Homo sapiens: one gene and its partner. The main gene of each other region encodes a partner of the protein of the gene in region 2 in a complex. Each region holds a gene or a part of one and is shown on either strand. Other genes may lie near its edges.

Region 1 (7,036 bases), on a different chromosome or scaffold from region 2:
GAAGGTCTACCTGCAACATTTTCTTTGTAAGCCACTATCATCTCTTGTCCAACAACTGCCAACATTTCCCAACTAATTTCCCTAATTCCATTGAACATACCAACAATGTTCATAAAGAAAGGCGAAGAGGATAAGACAGAAATGTGTATCTGTAACAGGAGATATTTTGGTTTTGTTTTGTTTGAGAAAGAGTCTCACTCTGTCACCCAGGCTGGAGTGCAGTGGCGCGATCTCAGCTCTGGAGGCTCCTGGAGGGTGGCACGCCCGGGGAGGGCATGGAAACTCCATGCTCCTTCTCCTACACCTCGCCCTATGCACCTGCTCATCTGTACCCTTTGTAACATCCTTTGTAATAAACTGGTAAATGTGTTATCCTGAGCTCTGTGAGCCACTCCAGCAAACTGAGCCCAAAGAGGGAGTTATGGAAACCCCTACCTGGAGCCAGTTGGTCAGAAATTCTGGAGGCCTGAGGCCCTGACCTGCAGCTAGTGCCTGAAAGTGGGGAGGCAGATTTGGGACTGAACTAGTGCCTGAAGGGAGGCAGGCTTGGGGACTCAGCCCTCAACTCATGGAATCTGATGCTATCTCTGGGTAAATAGTGTTGGAATTAAATCAGAGGACACCCAGCGGGTGTCTGCTGCTTGGTGTGTGGGGAAGAAACCCAACACATTTGGTCACAGAACTCTTCTGTGGTCATGATTGTGGTGATGTGAGAGCATAGGAAGCACACAGTTTGCATTTTTCCCAAACAATGCCATAAAATATATACAAACCTTTCCATATGGTAGATCACAAAGAAAAAAACCTCATTCTTTTTTTTTTTTTGAGACAGGGTCTCCCTCCGTCGCCCAGGCTGCAGTGCAGTGGCGCGATCTCAGCTCACTGCAACCTCCACCTCCTGGGTTCAAGCGATTCTCCTGCCTCAGCCCCGAGTAGCTGGGATTACAGGCACGTGCCACCATGCCTGGCTAATTTTTGTACTTTTAGTAGAGAGGGTTTCACCATGTTGGCCAGACTGGTCTCTGACCTCAAGTGATCCACCCGCCTCGGCCTCCCAAAGTGCTGGGATTACAGGCGGGAGCCACCGTGCCCAGTCGAAAAAACCTCATTGTTAACCAATTATGAGGTCAGAAAAGGAAATCAAAACTGAAATTGCAGCATGGGTAAAATACCAAGAAAACACTAAATTGGTAAGGGCTTGGTGAATTCTATGGATGAAATGGATAATTTGCTACAAAAATAGGATTTACCAAAATGGATTGCAAAAAACAAGAAAACAGAAACAGAAAAACTAGAGAATGTTGTGAAAGAAAGGTCCTACTCCCCTTTCCCCTCCACACAAAGGCATCTGGCCCAGATGTCCAGGGGTGTTGCGGCGGCTTGAAGGACAGCGCCTTCCAATTCTCTGTGTAAACACTGCCCCAGCAGAGAAACGAGAACAGCTCTCACACAAACTTGATGGAACAAACATAACACTGTTATGAAAACATAACAGAAATACCTCACATATACACATTCATATCTCTTATGAATGGAGATGCAAGGATGAATTAAATAAACAAATGGAGATGCACAAATAAGCAAACAAAATCCAGCAGCATATTAAAATAATAATTGATAAACACAAAAGGGTTTTTGTTTCATGAATGCCAGGATGACTCAAAATTAGAGGATCTCATAATAATTTGCCATGTTAATAGATATTTCAACATCTATTCTTGATTTTTAAAAAACTCTCAATAACATATGAGCAGCTAAATATTTCCCTGACCTCCAAAACTCAGTATCATGTTTACCGAGGCAGTGCTAGAAGCACTCCAATTAAAGTCAAAACATGGCAAGGACAACCTTGATTGCCAATGTTATCTACATTGTTCTGGGGCATTAGCCAACTCAGCTAGAGTCACGAGATGTATTATGGAGATACACAAATTGGAAAGGAGGGAGAAGTATCACTATTTGCAGATGATATAATCAAATAAATAGGCCAGCCACGGTAGCTCATGCCTGTAATCCCAGCACTTTGGGAGGCCGAGGCAGGCAGATCACTTGACGTCAGGAGTTTGAGACCAGCCTGGCCAACATGGTAAAACCCTGTCTCTAGTAAAAATACAAAAAGTAGTTGGGCGTGGTGGCAGGTGCCTGTAATCCTAGCTACTGGGAAGGCTGAGGCAGGAGAATCGCTTGAACCCTGGAGGCACAAGTTGTAGTGAGCTGAGATTGTGCCACTGCACTCTAACCTGAGTAATAGAGCAACACTCTGTCTCAAATAATAATAATTGAATAAATAGAAAGCCCTAAAAAAAAAAAACAAAAAAAAACACCCTGTAAACGTTACTATAAACAATAAGAGATACCACTTTTCACTTCTCAGATTGTCAAAGATTGAAAGAGGTATTCTCTTCTTTGCTGGTGGTTATGCAAACTGATCAGCATTTACAAAGAAGAATCTGGAAATATCTAACTGCAATCACTTGTGAGCCTTCACACACCCACACCTGGTCTGTGTGTGGCTCTGGGACTGTAGGAATGTTCTCCAAGCAACACTGGGAATCTACCCCACTTGGGGAGACAGCTGGAAGGGTGAGTAAGGAGAAAAGCATTGATGTCAATTTGACAAGAAACAAACAGAAACAAAAAATGCAGGAAAAAAATATTAGAGAAAATATAAGAGAAAGAACTGTCTGAGACAAAGAATCTACAGGGCTCACATCTGTAGAGCTATTAAGGGATTTTTTAAAAAATTACATGGAAAGGTAGATTACGTATCAGCAAAATGGACTTTTCATTTTAACAACACAGTCCACAAGAAAGGATCATTTAGCCCTCTTAGAGATGATTTCATAGAAAGGAAGGTTACTAAGGAATAAAATCACATGATGTGAAACATCTATATTACTTTTGGGACCATAGGGACCATTGCCTGCATTTTGTTGGGGAAATCATAATTATTTTGAGTTTCTTTGCTTGAGATAGGGTCTTGCTCTGTCTACAGGCATGGTGATGCACACTTATAATCCCAGCTACTCAGGAGGCTAAGGCAGGAGAATCACCTTAACTGGGGAGGCGGAGGTTACAGTGAGCCAAGATGGCATGCAGTGGTGCAAACACAGCTTACTGCAGCCTTGAACTCTGGGGCTCAAGTGATCCTCCTACCTTAGCTTCTGAAGTAGCTGGGACTACACACAAGCGCCATCACACCCGGCTAATTTTTTAATTTTTGTTTAAATTTTGTGTAGAGATGGGGTCTCTCTATGTTGCCCAGGCTGGTCTCAAACTTCTGGGCTCAAGCAATGCTCCCACTTCAGCCTCCCAAAGTGCTGGGAGCACAGGAGTGAGCCACTGTGCCTGGCAAGAAAATTTTTCTTGCCAATTCATAGATGGTGAACTAAAGGACATAGCAAAGGCAGCGCTATGCAGTGAAAAACAATAAAAGCAGAGCCGAGGCTGAGGTTCGTAAAGGGATCATGGGCTACTGATCTAAGGGAGACAGACAGAGGCTTGGCAGTTGATGAGGCATTTGGTCTTCACCCAGTGAATTACTGGTTTTGTTTACAGGCCATGTGACACAATCTCCTTCCAGGTCTGCCAAAAGCTACCATGAAAAGAGCAGACTCTTTTGGTAGTGGGTGTTTGAGCCCATGACACTTAGGGGCTACCTCAAGAAGGAAGCTTGAATCCAACTTCTAAAGGGTAAAATCCAAACACTAAGTTGTTAGGAAAATAGAGTAAAAGAAAACCCAACAGTGCTGTGTGCTGTCATTGTCGCTGCCTTCCCAGCCATGGAGCCATTACACTGGAGATAAAAGTTGTACCATATCCAAAAACAACAGTGAAAGCATCCACACCATTCAGTCACAAAGACTACACTGTTTATCTTTGCATTTCAAGCTTGTTAAGAAAAGCAGGCTGGGCACAGTGGCTCACGCCTGTAACCCCAGCACTTTGGGAGGCCAAGGCAGGTGGATCACCTGAGGTCACCTGCCTGACCAACATGGTGAAATCCCGTCTCTACTGAAAATACAATAATTAGCCAAGTGTGGTGGCAGGTGCCTGTAATCCCAGGTACTTGGAAGCCTAAGACAGGAGAATCACTTGAACCCCGGAGGCGGAGGTTGCAGTGAGCCGATTGGGCCACTGCACTCTAGCCTGGATGACAGAGCAAGACTCTGTCTCAAAAAAAAAAAAAAAAAAAAGCTTGTTAAGAAAAGCAGTTTGTAACCAGGGAGAGTGAAAGCCATCTGGATGCGAGGATGTTGGCTACCTTGGGAGGGGACTGGGTGGTAACTGGTAGGAGGCTCAGGGGGCTTTGCTGGTTATGCTGTTTCCCGACCTGGATGCTGATTATGTGACTGTGCTCCCTTTGTGAAATCCATGGAGCTGTCCACTTATGTGCACTTTTCTGTATGTCTGTTAATTTTCTTTTTTTTTTTTTTTTTTTTTTTTTTTTTGAGACAAGGTCTGGCTCTGTCACCCAGGCTGGAGTGCAGTGACACAATCTTGGCTTACTGCAACCTCTGCCTCCCAGGTACAAGCCTTCCACCTCAGCTTCCTGAGCAGCTCGGACTACAGGGACACAACACCACACCCAGCTAATTTTTGTATTTTTTGTAGAGACAGGTATAACCTGTTGGCCAGGATGGTCTCGAACTCCTGAGCTCAAGCAATCTGCCTGCCTCTGCCTCACAAAGTGTTGGGATTATAGGTATGAGCCATAATCCCACCTGGGCTCTGTTAATTTTCAGTGAAATGTACTGTCAAAGACTGCTTTGTCTTTGCCTAGAGAAAAGAATTAGGAGAGGCTTTTCCCTGTATAATGTTTGAGATCTTTCTAATTTTGACACAAGTAAATGCATTATTACATAATGAAACTCAATGTCTAGGTGAGAGGTTGGCAAACTACAGCCTGCAGGCCAAATCTGGCTCAATGCCTGGTTTTCTTTTTAATTGGGATATAATTGACATACCAATTCAGTGGTTTTTAATATGTTTAATATATTCACAAGGTTGTACAACCAACCTCACTACGTAATTCCAGAACATTTCATCATCCCCTAAAGAAACCCTGTAACCCTTGGCAGTCATTCCTTATTCCCCCACTCCTAGAACTTGGCAACCATTAATCTAGTTTCTGTCTCTATGGATTTGTCTATTCGCTACAGAATACATTTAACAGAAATGGAATCATAGGCATATGAAACATTAGCATGTTTCCAAGGTTAATCTATGTTGTAGCCTGTGTCAGTATGTTATATCTATTTTTATGGCTGAATAATATTCCACTGTGTGGATATTTGTTTATATTCATTCAATTGATGGCCATTTGGATTGCTTCCACCTTGTGGCTATTATAAAAAGTGCTGCTATTGGCCAGGCATGGTGGCTCTTGCCTGTAATCCCAGTACTTTGGGAAGCCGAGGCAAGCGGATCACTTGAGGTCAGGAGTTCAAGACCAGCCTGGCCAACAAGGTGGAATCCCGTCTCTAGTAAATATACAAAAAATAAAAATAAAAAAATTAGGCGGGTGTGATGGTGCACACCTATAATCCCAGCTACTCAGGAGGCTGAGGCAGGAGAATCGCTTGAACTGGGGAGGCGGAGGTTACAGTGAGCCAAGATGGCACCACTGCACTCTAGCCTGGGTGACAGAGCTAGACTCCATCTCAAAAAAAAAAAAAAAAAAAAAAACACTGCTATGAACACTTGTGTACATGTTTTTATGTGAACATGTTTTCAATTCTCTTTGGTATATTCCTAGGAGTAAAATTGCCGATCATATGGTAATCTTGTGTGTGGTTTTGAAGAATGGTCAAACTGTCTTCCACACTGGGTGCAGCATTTTGTGGTTTGGATTTGCATTTCCCTAAGACCTAATGATGCTGAGCATATTTATATGTGCTTTTCGGCCACTTGTATGTTTTCTCTGGAGAAGTGTCTATTCAAATCCTTTGCCCATTTTAAATTAGGGTTATTTGTCTTTTTAGCCCTGAGCTAAAAAACGTTCTTTTTATGTTCTGAACACTAGATTTTTATTAGATAACTAACTTGCAAATATTTTCTCCCATTCTGTGGGCTGTCCTTTTATTATTATTTATTATTATTATTATTTTTGAGACGGAGTCTCGCTCTGTTGCCCAGGCTGGAGTGCAGTGGCGCGATCTCGACTCACTGCAACCTCCGCCTCCTGGGTTCAAGCGATTCTCCTGCCTCAGCCTCCTGAGTAGCTGGGACTACAGATGCCTGCCACCATGCCTGACTAATTTTTGTATTTTTAGTAGAGATGGGGTTTCACCATATTGGCCAGCCTGGTCTCAAATGCCTGACCTCAGATGATCCACCCGTCTCGGCCTCTCAGAGTGCTAAGATTATAGGCATAAGCCACCGCACCTGGCCTTTTTATTTATTTATTTATTTTTTGAGACTAGGTCTTGCTCTGTCACCCAGGCTAGAGTGCAATGGTGAGATTATAGCTCACTGCAATCTCCAGCTCCTGGGCTCATGTGATCCACCCACCTTAGCCTCCCCAAGTAGCTGGGTTTATTCTAACAAGTGTGTGCCACCATACCCAGCTATTTTTTTTTTTCTAGATATCGGGTCTCACTATGTTGCACAGGCTGGTCTCAAACTCCTGGGCTCAAGTGATCCTCCCACCTCAGCCTTCCAAAGTGCAGGGATTACAGGCATGAGCCACTGTGCTCAGCCCCATCCATTCCTGCCAGTGCAGCTGGAGGAATCTATTCAAACCAGAAATCTGAGCACATCACTCATTTGTTTTAGCTCTCTGTGGATAAAAGCCAAATCCCTAATACATTCTGGAAGGTTTCTAGTTAAACTGCACATCTACTATCTGCCTGGCTCTGCCCACATTCTGCTTCCCCTCCTGCTACCATAGATGAGCTCCCGGCCCTTTGCTGAGGCCGATGCCTCCATCCCTGCTCTGTTCCACCCCCCTCCTTCCTGAGGACCTAGTTCCTTTCTCATTTTTCTCTCTCTCTTGCCCAATCAACACACACTCCATGCTACATTACTTTCCTGA
Region 2 (6,995 bases):
AGCTATGAGCCAAGAAGCATTATATGAAAGGCCCACATTAGGCCAATATTGAGACAGAAAGTAGACTAGTGGTTGCCTAAAGCTGGGGGTGGGGTGAAGAGAATGGGGAGTAACTGTTAATGGATAAAGGTTTTTTGAGGGAATGATGAAAATGTTCTAAAATTAGATTATGGTGATGGTTGCACAATTATTTAATCTAAAAACCACTGAATTGTATATTTTTTTTTTTTTTTTGAGATGGAGTCTCGTTCTGTCACCCAGCCTGTAGTGCAGTGGTGCTATCTTGGCTCACTGCAACCTCCACCTCCCAGGTTCAAGCGATTCGCCAGCCTCAGCCTCCCCAGTAGCTGGGATGACAGGCGCTCACCCCCATGCCCGGCTAATTTATATATTTTTAGTACAGACGGGGTTTCACCATGTTGGCTAGGCTGGTCTCGAACTCTGGACCTCAGGTGATCTACCTGACTAGGCTTCCCAAAGTGGTGGGATTACAGGTGTGAGCCACTGAACCCGGCCAAGTGGTACACCTTAAATGGGTGTATTTTATGGTATGTTAATTTTATCTCAATAAAGCAGTTTTTAAAAAGCAAAGAGCAGGAAAGAGGAATTGTAATTAACTTTTGTTGATTAAAAAAAAAAAAAAAAAAAAAAAGAGTGTGATGGGCCGGGGCCGGGGCGGTGGCTCACACCTCTAATCCCAGCACTCTGGGAGGCCGAGGCCGGTGGATCACAAGGTCAGGAGTTCAAGACCAGCCTGGCTAATATGGTGAAACCCCCGTCTCTACTAAAAATACAAAAATCAGCCAGGCGTGGGGGCGCCTGTAGTCCCAGCTACTCAGGAGACTGAGGCAGAAGAATCACTTGAAGCCGGTAGGCGGAGGTTGCGGTGAGCCAAGATAGCGCCACTGCACTCCAGCCTGGGCAACAGAGCAAGACCCCGTCTCAAAAAAAAAAAAAGAAAAGAAACAAAAAAAAAGAGTGTGATGAAGAAATTCTGCAAAATTTGCCGTTTCATGGGCTATATAGGAATTGACTTTAATTCTGACACAAAAAATTATCTTATCCAGAAATCAATTTTAACTTTCCAGAAAATATAAGCATATGCAAAAGTAATCACCTTTTCCTAGTAAACTTTTAGTATTAAATTCTAATTTCAAAAACACTTCAGAAAGCCAAATGCTGTAGTAACAATACTTCTACAAGAACAAAATATACGAATATCAACAACAAAACAGTCTTTACGATTTGGTTGTGATGCATTCTTTATTTTAAAAACCCATTAAAACATTTTTCATTTATTTAAAAAAGTGATCCTCAGACTGCCTCTTAGATTGGTAGTGTAATAATTCTTAAGTTATCAGAACATAATTTAAAAATAGCCAAATTACAATAAAATCGCAAACATCTACTGTCGTCCCAAACAACTATCAATTACAGCTACTGGTAACCTATCATAAGCAATGATGAGCACTACGAACCATCAACATCCATTTCTAGGAAATCCGATTCTGACTACACTACAAATACAGTCAAACAAATCCCATCATTCCCTCTGTTCCATCATTTAACTGCTTAGAAATCATTTAGGCTCTGAAGGTGCTTTTTCCAATTAGAACTCCCCTTCGGATTTATAAAAGTGAATGTACATCAAAATCTGCAGTTTAGGTTATCGCAGTAATATTTCTCGGTATACTACAAGTAATTTATCACGGTATTACTTAAAGGCGTTTAGTATTAAGACCGCCCTTGATTTGACAAATCAGAAATACAGCCAATTAAAAACAAAAACAGTCCAAACAATTTAATTCTTCGAAAGAGCCTCAATAAAGACCAAAAAATAAAGCTGGTTAGAAGAAAAAAATTTTTTTTTGAAACGCCTGTCAGTCAAAATGCTAAAAATACCATCTTGAACTCAACACATGAACAGACCAAACGGCTAATTATAATTGGCAAGCCAAAGTTCCCAAGTCAACGACGGGAGAGCAGAAACGGCAGAGAGGGCCTGCCCTTTCTGTCTATGCAGAGATGGAAGGAGGCAGAACTGAAGAAAATTATTGCACAAATTATTTCAAGCTACATTGCCAAAATGCAAAATACTGAGTAACTCTTTGGGTTAGCCTTCCCCGGAGAGAAAAACAAACAAATGTTTTAACGATTCCAGTAGAATCCAATAGGACTAAGGGCCTGGCTGGAAAAAGAAAAGGAAAGTTTGGGGGCAGCGTCTAAGGGGGTGATGGAAGTTCCAGAGCTGGGATCCCGGAAAGATAAGAGAGGGGCAAGAGCGGCGTTTGCGGTCGCTGACAGGAGGCAGGGAACACAGCTGCCAGCCCCGATCCCGGAGGGAGAGTGAAAAGGAAAAAAAAAAAAAAAAAAGGAAGTGGCGGAGAGGAGCATGGAAGCTTCAGTGCCGGTCAGCTGTGACCGAAACTCGGTCCGTTTGGGGCTGGGGAGGAGAGCCGAGGGGGTGGGGTCTCGGTCCCTCTCTCCGCTGTAGGTCGGGGTGAGAGTGGGCTGAGACGCGCGGGGGGCCGCGGGGCACACCTACCTGCGGGTCCCGGGGCAGCCGCCCTGAGCGAGGCCTAGTGCATCGCCGCCGCCTCCAGCCCTCCACGTCGCACCGAGGCTGCTGCTCCACGGCCGCCGCCGCCCGGCGCCCGGCCGGGCCCGAGCCCGGGTTCCCGCCCCCGCCCCGCGCCCGCTGGCCAGTCGGCCCGGGGAGCACAGGGCCGCCCTCTCGAGCCCAGCTTCACTCAGGGGTGAGAGGTGGCAGCGGCGGCTCCCTCACGTCTCTCCCGGGTGTCCTGTCAGCCAGCAGTTTCCCCCGGGTCCGCAGCGCCGCCTCCGCCGCTGCTGCCACCGCCTCTCCCACATCCCCGGCCTCCAGGGGAGCCGCCGCCGCCGCGCCACGACCACTGCCTCTAGCGCTTCTGCTCCCGACTCCACTGCTTTCCCTCACCCCGCCGGCCCAGCCGGCTCGGCCCGGTCGGGTGCGGGGAGACAGCGCCGGAGGCCGCCGCAGCCCCCAGCCCACAATCCACCGCGCGGCTCCGCCGGGGCGGGAGGGCCGCGGCCCGGGCCGGGGGGAGCGCCCGCCGCCTGGGGAAAGCGGCCTTGGCGCAGGCCGGCGTGCCCGTCGCAGGCGCAGCCAGAGTTCTCTCGGGGCGGGGAATACACCGCGTGGCTCCCCTGCGCCTCCTCTAATAGTCCTACACGCAGACAAATCCACGCTGAATTCCACTTTCCCCACCACCCTTCCCCCCAACTCCCAGTTTTCAGGAACACCCAGAAAACCTCCTGCCGCCTTCCCCGGGACTGGGACGCGACCCCTCCAGCGTAGCCCTCGCCACCCCCAAGACCAACCGACTCGAAACATCCCTAAATCACCCGGGACCTATTAAAGCAAATACTTCCACGAGATTCCTCCTCTCCCCCACCCCCTCGAAGTAAATGCTTTTCAGCTGTTCCCTAGTAAATGCCCTTCCAAAGGTTAAAGGTCACCCCTCCGCAACAACCCAGTTCTCTCTATTGAGGCCTTTTCCCCATCCAGTCCTCCCCTCCAAGTCTTCCCCAAGTTCCAGGCCTTCCTCCCAGACACTGTAATCAGTTATTCCTGTTACTTGACTGAGATACTTGGAGTGTGTATGATAATTAATACCTTCTAATTCTGACTTCAGCCTGGTTTCACAGGACTTGCAACTTTAAACCAATAAAACACAGTCCACAAGAAAGGGAAGGTCTTAGTATATAAATATAAAGACACACACACACACACACACACACATATATTTTAGGAAGAAAAAGATCCTCAATCCTTTGAGTGCTTGTGACTTAATTTTGGGAAGATTTTATTCAATGTTGAAATTCTTGCCTAAAAATAAATTTCAAGCATTTATAAGACATAGTATGTTTTAACAAATCAAAAGTGAAAATGTAACTCTTATAGTTGGGGGGTTGAAAAAAATGTTGATCCAAGTTTCACTTCTAAGAAGTCACTTTGAAAACTGCAAACATAACTTTTATGAAATAATATTTTCCCCACCAAAGAGCTAAAGTTGGGGAAAGAGGACAAAAAGTAAGGAAGCATCAAAAATAGTTGAGAGAAAACTCTTACATTATATTTTTCTAAGTTCAATCCTCTAAAATTATGTAAGAAACAAAGTGAGAAAATCATTCCCCAATATGAAATAAATTTAACTGTAAAAGAGTGAAGTCCTCTTAAATCCCTGATCACTTATAAAACCAGATGAGTTTACATAGAAGCAGAGTAGAATGGTGGTTACCAAAGACTGGGGGGTAAAGGGTGATGAGGAAAGGGGAAATGTGAGTCAAAGGGTATAAAGTTTCAGGTAGGAGGAATAAATTTTAGTGATCTATTGCACAGCACGATGACCACAGTTAATAACAATGTATTTAATATTCCAGAATAGCTAAAAGAGTACTTTCTTTGTTTTGTTTTGTTGAGACTGTGTCTGGCTCTGTTGCCCAGGCCAGAGTGCAGTGGCATGATCTTGGCTCACTGCAACCTCTGCCTCCCAGGTTGAAGCAATTCTCCTGCCTCAGCCTCCCGAGCCGCTGGGACTACAGGCGCGCACCACCACGCCCAGCTAATTTTTGTATTTTTAGTAGAGACGGGGTTTCACCATATTTGCCAGGCTGGTCTCCAAACTCTTGACCTCGTGATCCACCTGCCTCAGCCTCCCAAAGTGCTGGGATTACAGGCATGAGCCACCACGCCCAGCCAAGAGTACATTTTAAATGTTCTCACCATAAAAAAAATAAGCTGGGTACAGTGGCCCACACTTGTAGTCTCAGCTGAAGTGGAAGGATGCCTTGAAACTAGCAGTTTGAGTCCAGCCTGGACAACATAGCCAGACACCATCTCTTAAAAAAAAAAAAAAAAGTAGGTGAGGTGAAAGATATGTTAATTAGCTTGGTTTAGTTATTCCACAGTGTGTACATATATCAAAACATCACATTGGATCCTATAAATATATATAATTATTATTTGTCAGTTTAAAAATTTTTTATTAAAAAAGATGTGTTTATACTGTGAAAATATTAACAAGAGGATTAACCAAGTTTTATCTAAGGCCAGAAAGGAAAATAATTTTTCTTTATGTCTAGAATCAGTTCATAGATTATGCTAGGAATTGGATTTAGCAAATTCTTATATTTTGACCCCCCTCAGGAAGTCAACAACAGTTCAAAAACTTCCTTAAGCCTGGCTGGTTTGGCCTTTAAAAAAATATTTGTGTTTATACCCCACCTTGTTCCAGAAAAGATTCCAACTTGGCACTTGGACTAAATGATAGCCGTCAGTTGTCTCCCAGACACTAGAACAAGACAGTCTGGTTTGCTTCCTCATTATCCATCTGTTGATAACATACCATAGGAAGAAAATACACATTGAGTGTCGTGCTTAGTTCTTTCAGAGATCCAGCTCAATGTTTACTTTTACTTTTACTTTTCCACAGAACAATTCATAATCTTGAATCTAAACAGGAAAGTAAATGCTGATGATCAGGTTTGCAAAAATTTTTTTAAAGTGTGTAAACTGGGCAAGCAATTTCATTTAAACCTAGATAAATTTCAAATTAATTACTATGTTCACTTGCTATCACTTGAATCATTTCAGTCAGTATGAGAGCTAAAAGCCAAATCACAAATAAATAGGTATAGATATATTATTAGTGTACATTTCCAGAAAGCACAGATGATAGAAAATTAAGAAATTAATACAAAATTAAGAAATGGATAGGAGTTAAGATTCCATCATTGCCTTCAAAAAAAGGAATCAGGAAGAAAATATTTAGCTACCATGTCACTAACACTGTATTTGGCATATTTATTATATCTGTTACCGACCAATCACATGAAAAGTGATAGTCCATCAAGGTTATATGTTCTAATTAGAGGGAGAATGGCAAATTTTCTAATGCCATAACACCTATAAAAGGGCTATGTTTATGTTTACTGTGTATTCTGTGCATATTTGTATAGGTGGCAGTAGTAAGGTTAACATAGCTACTCAATCACTGAACACTGCCTTTCTTTTTTTTTTTTTTGAGATGGAGTCTTGCTCTGTCACCCAGGCTAGAGTGCAGTGGCACGATCTCGACTCACTGCAAGCTCCACCTCCCAGGTTCATACCATTCTCCTGCCTCAGCCTCCCAATATAGCTGGGACTACAGGCGCCCGCCTCCACGCCTGGCTAATTTTTTGTATTTTTAGTAGAGACGGGGTTTCACCGTGTTAGCCAGGATGGTCGTGATCTCCTGACCTCACGATCTGCCCGCCTCGGCCTCCCCAAGTGCTGGGATTACAGGCGTGAGCCACCATGTCCGGCCTGAACATTGCCTTTCTAATGATTTATTTGATAGAAACTATACATTCCCGTGCTATATAAATACAGAGGGGAAAGGGGGCACTGATAGAATGAACAATGAGAAAAATAATTTTCCAATTTAGTAAGATAGAAGCACTAGCTTCTTTTTTCTGTGATAGCAAACCTTGAATCTATGCAATGGAAACCCATCCACATTCTTAACCTACTCTACAGCTAAATATGTGTAATTATATTGTGTGTTTAGTATAAATAAGCTATCTTTGATAAGCAAGATTTACATGCACTAATGAACTGAAGGTGTCAAGCTGGTAATTGTTTCATTAGGGTTTGGATCCAATAATGTCCTGAATTATTTTATGCATCATATTTGAGCTATTCTTAAATGTTATATATATAAATATATAATTATATGTGTTTTTATAATTTAAAAAATTTTACAATTTTTGATACAGCTAATATATAGTATATAAAAATATAAATGATAATTTATAACAATATGACTCTAACCTGAAACTGTGTTTTGATATTTCTTCATAGGTAATATAGGACTATCTTAATGTAGGAAAACTTTCCAGTTTACTTTGAGTATGGTGTAAGATATTAAAGCTAAATGTAGATATAAGCACCACTAGAAAATTTATAATATTTT

What was found. The genes of interacting proteins can lie anywhere in the genome.
Region 1: VPS54 (region 2) and VPS51 share a complex: the UniProt entries of both Homo sapiens proteins name them as parts of the golgi-associated retrograde protein (GARP) complex.

Annotation. Positions count from the first base shown.
Region 1 is NC_000011.10:65,099,178-65,106,213, reverse strand, and holds part of VPS51 (vacuolar protein sorting-associated protein 51 homolog), read right to left. Parts: intron 1-7,036. UniProt on the Homo sapiens protein: Acts as a component of the GARP complex that is involved in retrograde transport from early and late endosomes to the trans-Golgi network (TGN).
Region 2 is NC_000002.12:64,016,393-64,023,387, forward strand, and holds the start of VPS54 (vacuolar protein sorting-associated protein 54), read right to left. Parts: upstream 3,037-6,995; 5' UTR 2,546-3,036; intron 1-2,545. UniProt on the Homo sapiens protein: Acts as a component of the GARP complex that is involved in retrograde transport from early and late endosomes to the trans-Golgi network (TGN).